Regions from separate parts of the Homo sapiens genome. Here region 2 is reported to be linked to region 1. Evidence: microRNA targets listed by miRTarBase, many of them from high-throughput screens and not tested one by one. Region 1 holds a microRNA gene; the other region holds the end of a gene's coding sequence.
What was found. The annotated mature microRNA hsa-miR-3151-5p reads GGUGGGGCAAUGGGAUCAGGU and lies in region 1 at 4,046-4,066, shown strand. An mRNA with a match to its seed (bases 2 to 7 or 8) in the 3' UTR can be bound and repressed. Matches are read on the target gene's strand: a 7mer-m8 pairs with bases 2 to 8, a 7mer-A1 pairs with bases 2 to 7 and ends in A, and an 8mer does both.

Region 1 (7,120 bases):
AGTCTGGGTAGGTTTTTCTTAATCTAACACAATCTGCTTTACAAATGATGCCAGCTTCTCCTAGATTCTGGGATTAGGTTGCCTACCAGTCTTCACTTGTGGTGATGTTGTGAGTCTTGGTCTTTTTCTATGTCTTCACAGGCATTTTAGTGGGCAGTTAGGCAAAGCTGATGCCCTTTGGCCTGGATATCCAACCCAGGGATTCTTGACCTTCTTCTCTAAGCCATTATCCTGAATTCTGATACAGCCACACCCACAGGATCACCCGGCCAGATCCGGTCTCTGTTTACAATTTCATACACTTCCTCCCCAACTAGTGAGCCAGCTTTTAACAAGGATCATGACCTCGGGTCCCTGGGCCTCAACCTGCTCTCTTCATCCATCACCCTCCCTGCTACTTTGTTTGGAGATAATATAATAGTTGCAATGTTAAAGAATTTGATTTTTTTTTTTTTTTTGAGATGGAGTCTCGCTCTGTTGCCCAGGCTGGAGTGCAGTGGCTCAATCTTAGCTCACTGCAACCTCTGCCTCCTGGGTTCAAGCGATTCTCCTCCCTCAGCCTCCCGAGTAGCTGGGACTTCAGGCACCTGCCACCACGCCCGGCTAATTTTTTGTATTTTTAGTAGAGATGAGGTTTCACAGTGTTAGCCAGGGTGGTCTTAATCTCCTGACTTCGTGATCTGCCTGCTTTGGCCTCCCAAAGTGCTGCAATTACAGGTGTGAGCCACCTCACCCGGCCTAGGAATTTGATTTTAACAACAGGCATTTATCAGCTGTGTGACCCTCAGCAAGTTTCTTAGCCTCTCTGGGTTTCAGTTTCCACATTGTAGGATGGGACTTATCGAAGAATTAATGCATTCACAAGTACAAAGGGCTTAGTGTTTCAGTGTTGTGCATTCTAGCAGCCAGGATCCCCTCACATCCTCACGCTTGCACCAGGCTTGTCATGCCAATCTCAAACCTTGGGTCACCCTTCCCCTCTGTTCCTTACACTCTTGTTTTGGAGCTGCCCAGCATTTCTGGAAAAAGTCATGCATGTTATGATTGCCCCTATAAGCAATTCATGCTCTAGAACAATGATCTCACCACCTCTCAGCAATTCTATTCATTCCTCATTAATATGCGGTGACAGACCCCATATAATAGCCCCTGATGCTATCCTATACTTTCCCTCTGAATATAAAAAAAAAAATCACAGACTTGCCGTGAATTCTCCCATTTTTCCTTCCAGTGACCCAGCATACATCCTTCTTGCCATCTGAGCATTTCTAAACATCTTTAGCGATCCTTTCCTCCTAGTCTGTCCATTTGAATTCTAAGTGCACTGACAAGGTTGCCCCTTGTTGTAACCATATACGGGAACCTCACAGGCAGCTCCATTTGGATGAAGGTCTACTCTGCATCTCCATGGGCCCTCCCCAAGCCCAAGCCACATCCGTCTTCCACTTGAACATCTGCCATAGCCTGCTTCCATTCATACCCTTGACAATTCATTCTTCATGTCATAGGCAGAACGATCTTTTAAAAACATATGTCAGGTCCTGTCACTCTCTTGTTTAATGCCTTCTGATAGCTTCCTGTTCTACTATGTGTAGAATAAAATCCCAGTCCCTTCCTTGGCCTCCAGGGGCCTGCATGACGAGGTCCCTGCTGATTTTCCAGCATGATTTCATTGTTTACTCTGCTCTGTTTTTTGCTCAGCGTGTTCCGGCCACGCTTGATTCCCCTCTGTTCTCTGAATACATGGAGCCCCTTCCTGTCACAGGCCTTCACACTTGCTGCAATGTGCTTCCTCCCCACACCCGCCCCCTCTGTGTGGTTAACTCCTCTTCACCCTTTGGCTCTCAGTTCAGATGTCACCTCCTCAGAGAGACCAGCCTTCCCCAGTGGCCATCTGGTCATTTCCTTCCTAACACCACTGCCTGTCATTGTCTTGTTCGTTTACTGTTTATTTCTTGACTCTCTCGCTTCAAGAGGTCAAGGATCTGATGGACTCACCCACTGTTACAGTCCAAGTGCTTAGAACAGTGCCCAGCACAGAGTAGGCACTCGGTGGATGTTTGTTGAATGAAGGGAACCCTCCACACCTTTTGTACCAGTTAGGGATTGCATCTGGCTGCCTGAACAGAAACCAACTCCAGGAATGGGATTTAGCCCATGGAAGGTCTGCACAGAGGTCTGGAGGTCGGCGGCCACACCCAGTCACGGACACTGTGGAGGAGCTGGGCTCCTTTGGCTTTATTGCTCTGCCATCCTTAGTGTGTGGATTTCATCCTCATGGCTGCGAGATGCTGCACCATCTTATTTCAAATGGGAAGAAGGAGACGGGCAGAAAGGGGCATTCTGCCTGATCTGTTCCTTATCTGTAAAATGACAGTTTTCCTCAAACCCAGTAAACTTTGCTTGGGTCTTATTGGTCAGAAGTGTATGATGTAGGTGTTCTGGGCTACAAGGGTGTCTAGGAACTCAAAACTTTTAGCTTTTTACCCTATATTGACCAGGCATTGGATGTGGGCTTCCCCAGCAAGGGGATGTGATGTTGTGTGAGGTCATTTCCTTCCACACAGGGAACTTTCAAGCTACCCTAAAAGTATCAGGGTCCTCTTGGCAAAGGAAAAATGGGGAGAACAGATACTGGGCAGGCTGCCAGCAGAGTGGTCACTTCTTTCATCCTATAGCTGTGGTCAGAGAGGAGAGAAGATTTCCAGGAACAAGAAGGGGGAAAGGAATTAGGTAAGTGAGGAGGGAGAGAAGTTCTGCCAGAAACCAAGGTGACATGATTGCTAGTGTTACAATTTTGCCGTAACAACAATAATAATATTGTTTTTAATATTTTCATGTTTCAAGTAAGTTCATAAGGTGAACATTCTCTGGAAAAACCACATATGCTAATATTGAAATAATTTTTAAAAATAATGCAATACCTTAAACTTTAATCTTTTAGAATGGTCTTTTAACTTCAGACTGTGCTGTGTACGTGAAATGCATGGTGGACATTCCCTTGTCTTCTGCCTTATTTTCCTGCAAGATTAATGCCAGCCAGAGACTGATGTGCCAGCTAATATTCCATGGCACCAATTTCCAGTTAGTGGGAACATTTGTGGGTGTCTGCTGTGCAGGGTCACACTGCTGCTCAGGCTGGGAGCTTCTGTTGGAGAAGCAGCTCGCAGCCAACTGGCAAATTTAAAGAGTTGACAGTGTTTTCTGTGGAAGTTCAAAAAACCCAACCTGCTGCTGTCTCTAGGGCTTGTGGACTTTAGGGCGTTAAGAAACTGGAAAGGCTTGCAGAAAATAGCAGGGCAGTTTGGGAAACTGGTCACCATGACAACAGGGCATGGCAGCGGTTACAATGGAAGCAGAGACCGCCTGTGCACCCTTCCTAAGAGGAATGATTCAGGCTTAAGCACCTCAATAAACAACTGGCATGTTTGAAACCGAGGCCTCATTAAACGATTACCTCCAAGAATCACTTTTCAAGGGCAGTCTTCATAGCAGTCAGGCTCACACTTTCTTGCTGGGGTGATAAGTGATGATGTACAAGCACAAACGAACACAGCTACGACCTCATGGTGTGGCTTCCATTAATTGGGTGCTCAGCATGTGCCGGGCTTTGCAGATTTATTAGCTAACTCTGTTATTTCCATTTTACAGAAGGGGGTAGTCAGAGCGGTGGGATGGCTTGTCTAAATGTACACGGGCTGTGAGCAGTGGGGTGGGGTTTGGAACTCAGGTCTGTCTCATTCTGAGCCCTGTGGTCTTTCCTGTACACCAGCCCCTTCATGGATTGCTAGCTTCTGTCCTCACCGCCTTTCACCTAGACATTTGCAACAACTTTTGGACTAGTCTTCACACCCCCAGTCACTCCCACTCCAATCCCCTTCACATTATTGCCAGGTAAATACTCCCAAGTACAGCTGGGATCATTATTGTGTTATTCTTCCACTCAAAGCCTTTCATGATTTCCCACTATCTACTGAATACAAATGTCTTAGTATGGAATTCAAGGCTTTCTCTCCAGCCTCTCCATACAACCTTTGGGGTGATGGGTGGGGCAATGGGATCAGGTGCCTCAAAGGGCATCCCACCTGATCCCACAGCCCACCTGTCACCCCAAAAGCCTGCTGCTCCTGCCCTTCTGCTTCAGTTATGTGTTCCCTGATAGCACACACCATTTAGGACACTTACTCCCTTTTGAGTTTTCTTATTTATGATTGTGACTTATCTCTGCTATTATACTGTATACTCTTAAAGACAGAGCCAAGAAACAGACTCTGAGGTAAACCCTTACTGGAGAGAGCTCTAGTAACACCACCTGTGATGTGGGCCTCTTACCTATCTCAAGCTATATATATATATATATATAATATATATGGAGAATAGTATAATAAACCTCCATGTACCCATCATCAGCTTCAACAATTATCAACATATTGCAAAGCTTGTTTCATCTCTGCCTCCATTCCACTTCGCCAATTAAACATTTTTGAAGCAAATTCCACAAGTCATGTAACTTCATCCATGAATACTTCAGTATGAATCTCTAATAAACTGGGACTCTTTAAAAAAGATATTAGATTGGACCATATCTATTAGATTGGACCAAAAAGATATTAGATTGGACCATTTTGTTATTTTTGTAGGTTGAAATAGTGTAATATTAGCAATTTCATATACTTCAAACTAATATATAACCATGATACCATCATCACACCTAAAAATTAATGAAAACTTCTTAATTCTCTAATGTAATAATAATTCAGTCAGCATCCCAGTTTCTCTAATAGGGTGAGGGGCACAGTCCAGGGCAGAGGGAGGAGTGGAATGGCTGTTGTAATAGGGGCTTCAGCTGATGCCCTGGGGAGCTCTGGAGCTGGGATGGCCATTCAGCAATTGAGAAGACTGGGCCTTTTTACCCTGTATCGGCCAGGCGCTGGATGCAGTCTTCCCCTAGCAAGTAGGTGTGACCTTGGGTAAGGTCATTTCCTTCCACAGGAGCAGTGCCTGGAGAGGCACTCAGCTGTGATCCTTTAGCGGCTAACTCTCCTAGCAGCTGGAGAATCTGGTGCTGCCGTCCCATAGGAAGACCTGGCAGTAATCACCTTACTCATCTTTCTGCTTCCCTAGTGGCTGCATATCAGATTCACCTGGGGAATCTCAAACAAACGTCCCACCCCAGGCACTTCTGATTTGGTAGTGGGAGTGCAGCTAGAAAACCTGCAGTGTCTCCATGTTCTCTAGGTCAGTGGAGAGTGAAATTTCGTGGGTCTGGGGTGGACCTGAGATTCTGCATGTTTGACAGGCTTCCAAGTGATGCTGATGCTGCTGGTCCAGAGGTCCTAGATCAGAGGTTAGCAAACTTTTTCTGTAAAGGGACAGAGGGTAAATATTTCAGGCTTTGTGGGCCACGTGATTTCTTTTGCAACTACTCAACTTCTCTGTTTTTAATGCCAAAGCAGCTATAGACAATATATAAATGAATGAGCGTGTCTGTGTTCCAATGCCCACTCCTGTCCTAGATGATTTTGAAGCACAGCCAGATTTAAGAGCCACTGTCTTTAATCCCCAAGGCAGTGTGGAAGAGAGAAAAAAAAGCATAGGATTTGCAGTTACTAGTCCTAGCCCTCAGAAACATCTCTAAATAGCTCAGCACATGCTGAACACTCAAATAATGTTTCTAGAATAACGAACAGACAATGAATTAATGGAATTAAGTTCATTTCTCACCGTGAAGGCAGTTTTTAAAGTATCTTGGATAACATTTGTTCATCAAAGTATTAGAGATTTTATTATGCAAATCATGCTCTTGAGTTGGGTGGGATTCAGGAAGAATATGGCATCACGCAGAGTAAGGTAGAGGGTGCTTGAAGATCAATTTCATCTTCATAAGGGATTCTCCTTGCCTTGGGCTCTGAGGAATGTTGGGATGCCTTAATCCCTTCAGCACAGGTCACTGTTGATTTAGAGAGTTGGGTGCAGCTACCATGGCCTGAGTTGTTTTCTCAGCTGAATCAGATTCAGACAGGGCTTCTTCTGAGACGGTGGAATGTTCTTCTAACAGGCGTGAGGAATAATTATCTCACTGTGTCTCTCTGAGTTTCACTTACCTTTCCTTAACTCTGTTATTGCCACAGGCTGTAATGCCAGAAATGAGGGTTTTTGGAAAGTCGCTGCATGTCTGCTTGGTTGTGAGTCTGGGCAGCTGATGAATGGGTTGCTGTTATGGTGTTTACTTTTCTGAATCAGGTGTTCCTTTGCAGAGGCAGGGGGCTTCCAGCCATTATGTAAGCTTTCAGAAAATACCCAATGATCTTCTTAGAGAAAGAGCACCATTTAAATAGAAGCTACTAAAATCGTTAACACGGGGACCCAGAGAGAGTGTGCCCATGCCCTTTAGCCATATTTGTCTCTTTTGCACATAAATTCAAAATTCAAACGCTGACTCTTCTTGGGATTGCAAAACCCTGTAGCAGTAAGCAAAAAATTAGTGTGGAATGTATATGATATACAAAAAAGTTATATGAAAAGGTGATCTGAATATGTGTGTAGGTACACACACACACACACACACACACACCACACACAAATGGAGATTATATCTTCAATTGAGCATCAAACACCATCTGGTTGCAATTGCTCAAAACAATTCTAGAACCCCTTAATTGTAGCCTTAGACATTTTTTAATATAACATTTCAAACATATATGAAAATTTGAAACTTTATACGCACATATTTCAAGCTATATATATATATATTTGGATAATATTATATAATAAACCCCCACGTATCCATCACAGCTTCAACGCATTGCAAATCTTGTTTCATCTCTGCCTCCATTCCCCTTCATCAATTGGGTAATTTTGAAGCAAATTCCGGAAGTCATGTAACTTCATCCATGAATACTTTAGTATGAATCTCTAAGAAATTAGGACTCTTTTAAAAAGATATTGGGGCTGTCATGGTGGCTCACACCAGTAATCCCAGCACATTGGGAGGCTGAGGCAGGAGGATCACCTGAGCCTATGAGTATGAGACCGTCCTGGGCAATATAGTGAGGCCTCATCTCTATAAAAAAATTATTTTTAAAAAATTAGCCAAGCATGGTGGTGCATGCCTGTAGTC
Region 2 (7,104 bases), not on the chromosome of region 1:
TGTGACTTAGCAAGTGCAGGTGAAGAGGTAGACAAGATTGGGATTTCACCAGAGGCGGCCAGTGGGGCAGGAGATGAAGCCCCAAGGCAGAGTCCAGGCTGGGCCTGTGGGTCCTTGTCCTTTTGAGGGGACACATGATAGCCATCACTGCCCAGTGATGAATCCGGACTCTGCTGATTTCTAGTGTTGAGACCTTGGCCTCTGCACCTCAGTTTGCTCATTCATAGAGTGCTCGTCCTTACCTCCAGGGTTATGGGAGGATGAGGTGCAGTCTCCAGTGTGGTGGGCTTGGCCTGGACTCCTCCTGCTGTCAGCTTGGGGTCTGGGCACTGTCAGAGTTGTTCCCAAGCTGATGCCTTTGCCTGGCCCAGGCGCGGTTGACCTGCCCCTGCTGTAACACCCGCAAGAAGGATGCAGTCCTTACCAAGTGCTTCCACGTTTTCTGCTTCGAGTGCGTGCGGGGCCGCTATGAGGCCCGCCAGAGGAAGTGCCCCAAGTGCAACGCGGCCTTTGGTGCCCACGACTTCCATCGTATCTACATCAGCTGAACCTGAAACTCAGGGGACTCTGGAACACCATGGACCCTGGGGGCTGTGCCCCCATCTCCTCCCCACCCCAGGTCTAGTGGCCCCACCCTCCATTCCGGACCCCATGGGCCCAGCCCCTGCCCATCTAGTTGGTTTGGGGACCCTGGTGCATGCTAGTGGGCATGGGATCAGCCAAGCTTCGTTCCATCTTTTCCTAAAGGTCAGAGCTGCAGCCTAGGGGGCACTGCCCTACAGAAAAGGTCTGCCTGAGAGGCCTGAGGAGCCCAGAGCACTTGACTGAGCTTCCCGGAAACTGGCCCTAACCTGTCTGTCTCCGTGGATGCATCCTAACCCTAAGGAAAATTCCCCAGGCTGTGATCTACCCTAGAGAAGGCTCGCTCCCTGCCTACTGGCTCACAAATGAGGACCAGTGAGCCATGTCCTTGTTCCTTGTTTGAGACTGGGCTGCAGGCCCCAGGAAGACTTTCCTTCACCCACCATCCCCCTAACCTCGGCAGGGCTTCTGTCCTGTGGAGTTCCCTGGACACCTTGGTCTGGCTCTTGTGCCAAGGGCTGAAGGAGGTACCCTCTTGGCAGATGGGGGCATCACTTGCTTCCTTTGGGAAGCTCTAAGGTTGCTGCAGTCACCTTCCTCATCTTGCAGGTGCTGAACCAACATCATCAGTTTCTATTCTAATCAGGCCCCTTCCCAATCTCCATTTCTCTGCCAAGCCCATTTACCCCCACCTCATGCATCCCAAGGCTCTACTGGGTCCCTGGACCTAACCCTGCTTTCATCCTGGTGGCCTTAACTACAGTGGAGGTGGAACTTCCCAGGAGGGGAAGGGACAGACCAGCCCCAGCCGCTGGGCCAACTTCCAATCATTCCAGCTAGAAGAGCTTCCCCCTGACACCCTGTGACTGAGCCTGTGTCCTGTCTGCCTGCCCAGCCATGCTCCATCGGCTGTGAGGGCAGTGCCCGGAGAGGCCAGAGGGTTGGAGCTGCAGGGACCCGTTTGGACCCACAGCCTCTGTTCTAGAGATGCTTGTATAGGCTGTTAATTGTGATGAATAAACGTTCAACCCTCGGCCTGCAGCCAGAGTAGCCAGGCCGCGCACCCCAAATGTAGTCCCCCGATTTTAGCTGCAGCAGCTGAGCAGCACTTTGCTGGCTTGGTGTGAGCCTGGGAGGGCTCAGACTTAACGGCCGGCAGGGATCCCGGACTGGGCCTGAAGGGGAGAGCGTGGTGGTCGTCGCGGAGCCGCCTGTCCTGCTCCCACCGACCCCGGTCTGACCACGTCCTTGGCTGTCATGGCCGGGGGATGCCGGGACTCCTCGGGCTGCATCCTGGGAAGTGTAGTTCCTGGTCCGCACATGGTTAGGAGGTTCTCGGAGAGAGAGCTAGTTTCCCGGTTGCGCTGGCCAAAGGCCGGCCTGAACTGGATCCTGCGGACCGCTTCTCAGCGGCTTCACCCCCACACCACTCGAATGCACAGATCGGGACACCTCAGCTGGGTGACTTCCCTCGTTGCAATCGGCCTCGGGAGCGGTGCGGCGTGTACCGAGCGGCGCCCCTGGGCTCAGCGCGCTGCAGGCGCCCCGGGCGGATCCTTCACCGAGGCAGGACTGGGGCTGGCGCCAGAGCCGGTGCGGAGCGGTGTTGGTTCAGGCGCTGGCGACAGTGCTATGGCCACGGCAGGGGCCGCGTGCGTCTCAGCGGTGGCGCCTTCGGACCCTATTGGCGCCCGGGACTTAAGCGGGGCCGCCGCTGCTGGACCAGGACGAACTGGAGAAGGAGACGCGGGCCGCCACGGTGACCTCGGGCGTAGGGCCGGCGGCGGCGGGCACGCTGGTGGAAGCGCGGGCCGCGGCAGGGGAGGACATCGGGCCGCAGAGAAAGTGCCGATGGCCTGGGGCAGCGGTGCGAGGGTGGGAAAAACGCAGGATATTGCATCATAGAGACGCGGCCACCTTCGCCCCTGGAGAGCGCCAGTCTCAGGAGCGCCGCACCGGTCACGGGTGGAGGTCAGCCAGGCCTCCGTAAGCGCGGTCCCCTTCCAGGAGTAGCCTTCGCCTGGGCTCTTGAGTAGATGCCAAGTAATTCCGCATCGTCTCTCTAGATATCTGCGCTAAAGGCCACCCGGTCTCCTTATCAGAGGGGCAAAACTCTCCTCGTGGGTCTTCATACCTAATAAAAGTCGGCATCAAACCACTTTTTCAAGGTCAAGTCCAAGGGAACGGGGTGAAGATCCCACAATGTCAGTGAGGCAGCAACCACTGATGTGGTGGCAGGAACCAAACCTTTTTTTTTTTTTTTTTTTTTTGAGACGGAGTCTCACTCTGTCTCCCAGGCTGGAGTGCAGTGGCACGATCTCGGCTCACTGCAACCTCTACTTCCCGGGTTCAAGCGATTCTCCTGCCTCAGTCTCCCGAGTAGCTGGGACTGCAGGCGTGCACCACTGCGCCCAGCTAATTTTTGTATTTTTAGAGACAGGGTTTCACCATGTTGGTCAGGCTGGTCTCAAACTCCTGACATCATGATCTGCCTGCCTCGGCCTCCCAAAGTGCTGGGATTACAGGCGTGAGCCACTGTGTCCGGCCAGGAACCAAACTCTTAATAAACATTTCCCATGAGGCTCCGGTGCCGGGAGGATTTGCCTTAATTTTTTGACTGCTTACCACCCCTAGTGGTCCCAGTGGCAGCGGTACCCTGGGCTGCTGCCCAGGGACTGGCAGACCAAAACTACTCCTGGGCCCACCCCGACCTTGGCTGTCTTCTTGGGAGTGAACAGATGTTGGCATCAGTGGTGGACATGCCCGTTTCAGCCAGACCTTGGGCACTGCCTGTGATTGGCCAGTGGGTTGCCTGATGTAGACCGCTGTCTTCTCAAAACTTCCCTTGCATCCGACGGTGCTACGCTGTCCTGTCCTGGTTTTTCTCATACTGTCTTCTGCTGGTCCTCTTCCTCCACCCCTAAACTAGACCTTCTACTTTGCCACTTTGTGTGTGTTTATTCATGGTTATGGCTATAGCTAAGCTGATAAGGACCTAACTGCTCCAGCCACTCCTCTTTCCTGAGCTCCAGACCTGGAGAATCACCACTGTTCTTGTGGAGAGAAGAGAGATCATGTCACTCTCAAATATCCCCAAGTGGTACCTTCCCCGAGCTCCTCCAGGGGCTCCACACTGTGGGCTCTGCTCTCTGCCTCTGTCTTCCCATAGTCCCCTCTCTGCTCTAAGCCCATACCCAACTGTTATGCACCCCTGTCCTCCATCCCACCCCCAGCCGATACACCTACTCTTGGGTCTTCTTGCAGCCCTCATCCTTCAGGTCACTTTCCCCGGAAAGCTTCCTGACCCTCCACTGTGGCAGGCACCATCTCTGGGTCCACAGCCCTTCTGCGAAATCTCTGAGGCAGTCACTGCCCTGTGTCTGCTCTTCTGCTGTAGTCACTTTCCTGCAGATTTCTCCAGCACTGGGACTCCTGATAGACCTCAGTGTCCCCAGGGCTTGGCACACAGAGAATGTAGAGTAGCCTTCATTACTTGCTTCTCCTCTCCTCCCACCCCCCTTTCCAGGTGGGGAAGGGAAGGAGACACTGAACCTGCCCTGGGTTGTGGTCAGAGGGGTACAGGAAAGGTGGGGAGACACTTTCTGGCTGGGGCAGGATTCCCCCAATCCCCCATGGCCAGGCCCAGGGCCCAGGAGACTGAGCACTGAGGCAGGCCTGAGATTGGGATGGAGTGGGCACAAAACATGCTTGAGTTCCTGGCCATTCTGGTTTCCTTCACGGACTTGCTGTGGATCTTGGGCAATTGGCTGCCCTTCTCTGAGCCTCGCCTCTCCACACAGTGAGGGCACAAGGGCTGACATCCTGGCAGTGATGACAAGCCAGGTCTCCACCCACCTCTCCCAGGGTCCCCAAGTGAACCAGGAGTGGTGGATGCCAGCTTCTGAAACTAGATCCTCAGAACTTCCCTGTGGCAGGTTGCGGGTATGGTGGTCAGAGAGGCCTCCCTGGGGCTGCACAGCTGGGCCTGAGCTGGCCAGCGCCAGAGCCACCAGGCGGCCACTCTGCAGTCCTGCTGGTGGGAAGGCCAGGCACCGATGAGAACAGCTTAGCTTGGCTGCCATCTCATCAGATTTATCCCTTTCCGCACCAAGGGACTGCAGCTTAAAACTTCATAAACTCTTCAGCTTCCCACAAGCCAGCAATGGATGGGGATTTTAGGGCCCCTGGGTGAAGGGTGGGCCTGGGGCTGGGCTGAGCTTTTGCAGTCACTCCTGGGCTCCGGCTTAAGGTGAGGCCACACTCTTTCAGCTCACTTTAGGCTGAAAGAAAAAACAAGAAACACCCAGGAAATCTTATTCCCTTTATTCTCTTCAACTAAGCAACATGACCACCAGTGACACAACACTGTTTTGGACACACAACACTCAAAAATGGGGCCTCTCTTCACTCCATGGGGACAAGTCCGGTGACTGGGGCTTCCCTAGTGAGGGCAAAGGAGTCTGGGAGCTGCTGACCTCAGGGCAGGTCATGGAACCCCACCTCTTGGCTGTGATGGCTTCAAGTTTCCCCACCATTCAGGATTCATGCCCAGTTCCAAGTTCCCATCTGACCTCCATGTCCATAGCAGTTTCAAGTTTCACTCTAAGCTCTCCCCTCTGCTTTCCCCACTGACTCCCTGACCCTATCTGTTGGGCTCCTCCCTCCACCAGGGCGTTTCTGAGGGGCCTGGGGCCTGCATGTGATTGGACAAGAGGGTTTGGCTGCACAGTGCCTTCCAGACTCAGTTGTGGTGAGCAAATGCTTTGACCCCTGGGCCTTCATCTGAGCCGATCTGAGCAACTCTAGCCACTGCCACCTCCCTGCTTCAATCCTCCCAAGACGTAGCTCACTCTGGGAGGGAAGCTCCTGGTTAAAGGAGCTTGGGGAGGTGGGCAAGAGAGAACACGCCACACCCCAGAGGTATCGAACCCTGCCCCTTTCCTACCGCAAGACGCCTGACCCTACGAACTGTGCGCTCACATCATCCATCCCGTACAAGAGCCAAGCCCCTTAGCCCTCACCCATCCCTACAACATGTGAGCATCCTACTAAATATGCTACACCCTAGTCCGAAACAGGCCTGCGCCGGCCTTCAGTCACACTGCCTGCCTCCCCCCAGACTGGCCTCTGAGCCCCAAAAGCTGCTCCCCAGGCCTCTTCTGGGAACAGATTCCTTAGGCCTGTTTTTGAGAGCATCTGCTTCTGGCTTTGCGAGAGGTTTGTCTTTACAACTTCAGTTTCTGCTACCATCTTGGGGAGGGGGACATCTCCTTAGACTTGGCAGACTTCTCATTCTTACAGGGCACCCCCTTCGTTGGCGTTCTGTTAGGAAGAGACCCACAGGCAGCACCCCCCTCAGTAGTGCTTCCCTTCCTGGCACTTGGATAGGCTGGGGCGTTATGCAGATGGCAACATGGTTCTCCGCACAATCCTGAGGCCTGCCTTCTCCCTCTCCCCAGCAGGCCTGGCGTTTTCCTCCCACAATGTTTGAGATTTTGATCCTTTTAAATGTGAGGGTCATCCTGCTGGGGCCAGGATAGACAAATGGCGAAGGATTTGCATAAAGGTTGTGTGAAACTTTAGGTCATGGAATTAGAGGTCTCTTCCACAGCTTTGCAAAAATCTGGGTCACCCCTCTCTTGAGACGTGACTCCTGACGGGCCCCACAGCTGGCATCTCAGTCCTCTTACTCCAGGACAGCGCATTACTGGGGTTGGCAAGCACTTCCTTTCTGACCCAGCGCTGAGCAGAGTCCTCTCCTTTTGAAGGGGTCTCCAGGATTAGGGAGTGGGAGTCTTGTTACAGATGTTTCATTCAAGAGTTTTCTGTCTTCCACCATCTCATAGGGCAACAGTCTCTCCCCAGCCACATATGCCCAGGCCTGTGAGCAGGCTTGGCTGTTTATGAATGTGTAACTGTGTGGTGTGGGAGGTGAGATGGGCCTGGCAAGGGAGGCTTTCTCATCCTTCTGTTTCCTTCTGAAGGTTTCTGGCTAAGGAGGAGAGGGGAGCCAAGTGAGTGGAATCCATCCCATCCATCTCAAGGCTGAGATTGGGCTGGATCTCACAACCCTGGAGGGCTCCAGGTACCAGGGTGAAGAGGGTGATACGGCCTCTGCGGACTCTTCAGGGACCTGTGGCTCAGTCTGTGGGGTGTCTGGATCCCCACCAGGGAGGAGGGCTGCCTTATCCTGCGGGGCAGCCTTGCTACCAACAAAGATGAATAGCTGAAGTTTAAAATCAAGTTGCTGGCTAATCAAAGCTTTCTAAGAAATTCTGTGGCCCTGATGACTTGGAGAAGGCTGGGGAGGCCCACACGCAGGCCCTAAGTCTCTGAAGGGCTTTATTCTTTGGAGGTCGACTAGCAGCGGTTCTCCCTCTCCACTGAGGACAGAATTTGAGGAAATGAGCTGCCACTGGCGGCAGTTAGATTTCAGGAAAAACCTCCTGAAGGTGAGACCTGAGAATGTGGTGGGAGGCAACCGCCATCCCTGGAGGCCTTGCAGAGTAGAAGTCCCTGGCT

Region 2: the mRNA of RNF40 is a reported target of hsa-miR-3151-5p. Seed matches in the 3' UTR shown: 7mer-m8 at 628-634 and 7mer-A1 at 2,002-2,008.

The regions. Positions count from the first base shown.
Region 1 is chr8:103,150,578-103,157,697 of GRCh38, forward strand. MIR3151 (microRNA 3151) reads left to right here and starts at 4,037; the gene lies at 4,037-4,112. The region is part of intron 1 of BAALC (BAALC binder of MAP3K1 and KLF4); the gene reads left to right. It overlaps BAALC-AS1 (BAALC antisense RNA 1), which reads right to left. Exons shown (of 3, transcript NR_109954.1): 3 at 6,413-6,461.
Region 2 is chr16:30,773,567-30,780,670 of GRCh38, forward strand. RNF40 (ring finger protein 40) reads left to right here. Exons shown (of 20, transcript NM_014771.4): 20 at 372-2,741. The coding sequence ends at 548. ZNF629 (zinc finger protein 629) reads right to left here. Exons shown (of 3, transcript NM_001080417.3): 3 at 4,890-7,104. Among named protein-coding and RNA genes, the nearest start is that of ZNF629, 10 kb to the right of the region's middle. RefSeq lists enhancers at 999-1,677, 1,678-2,354, 2,684-2,793 and a silencer at 2,274-2,353.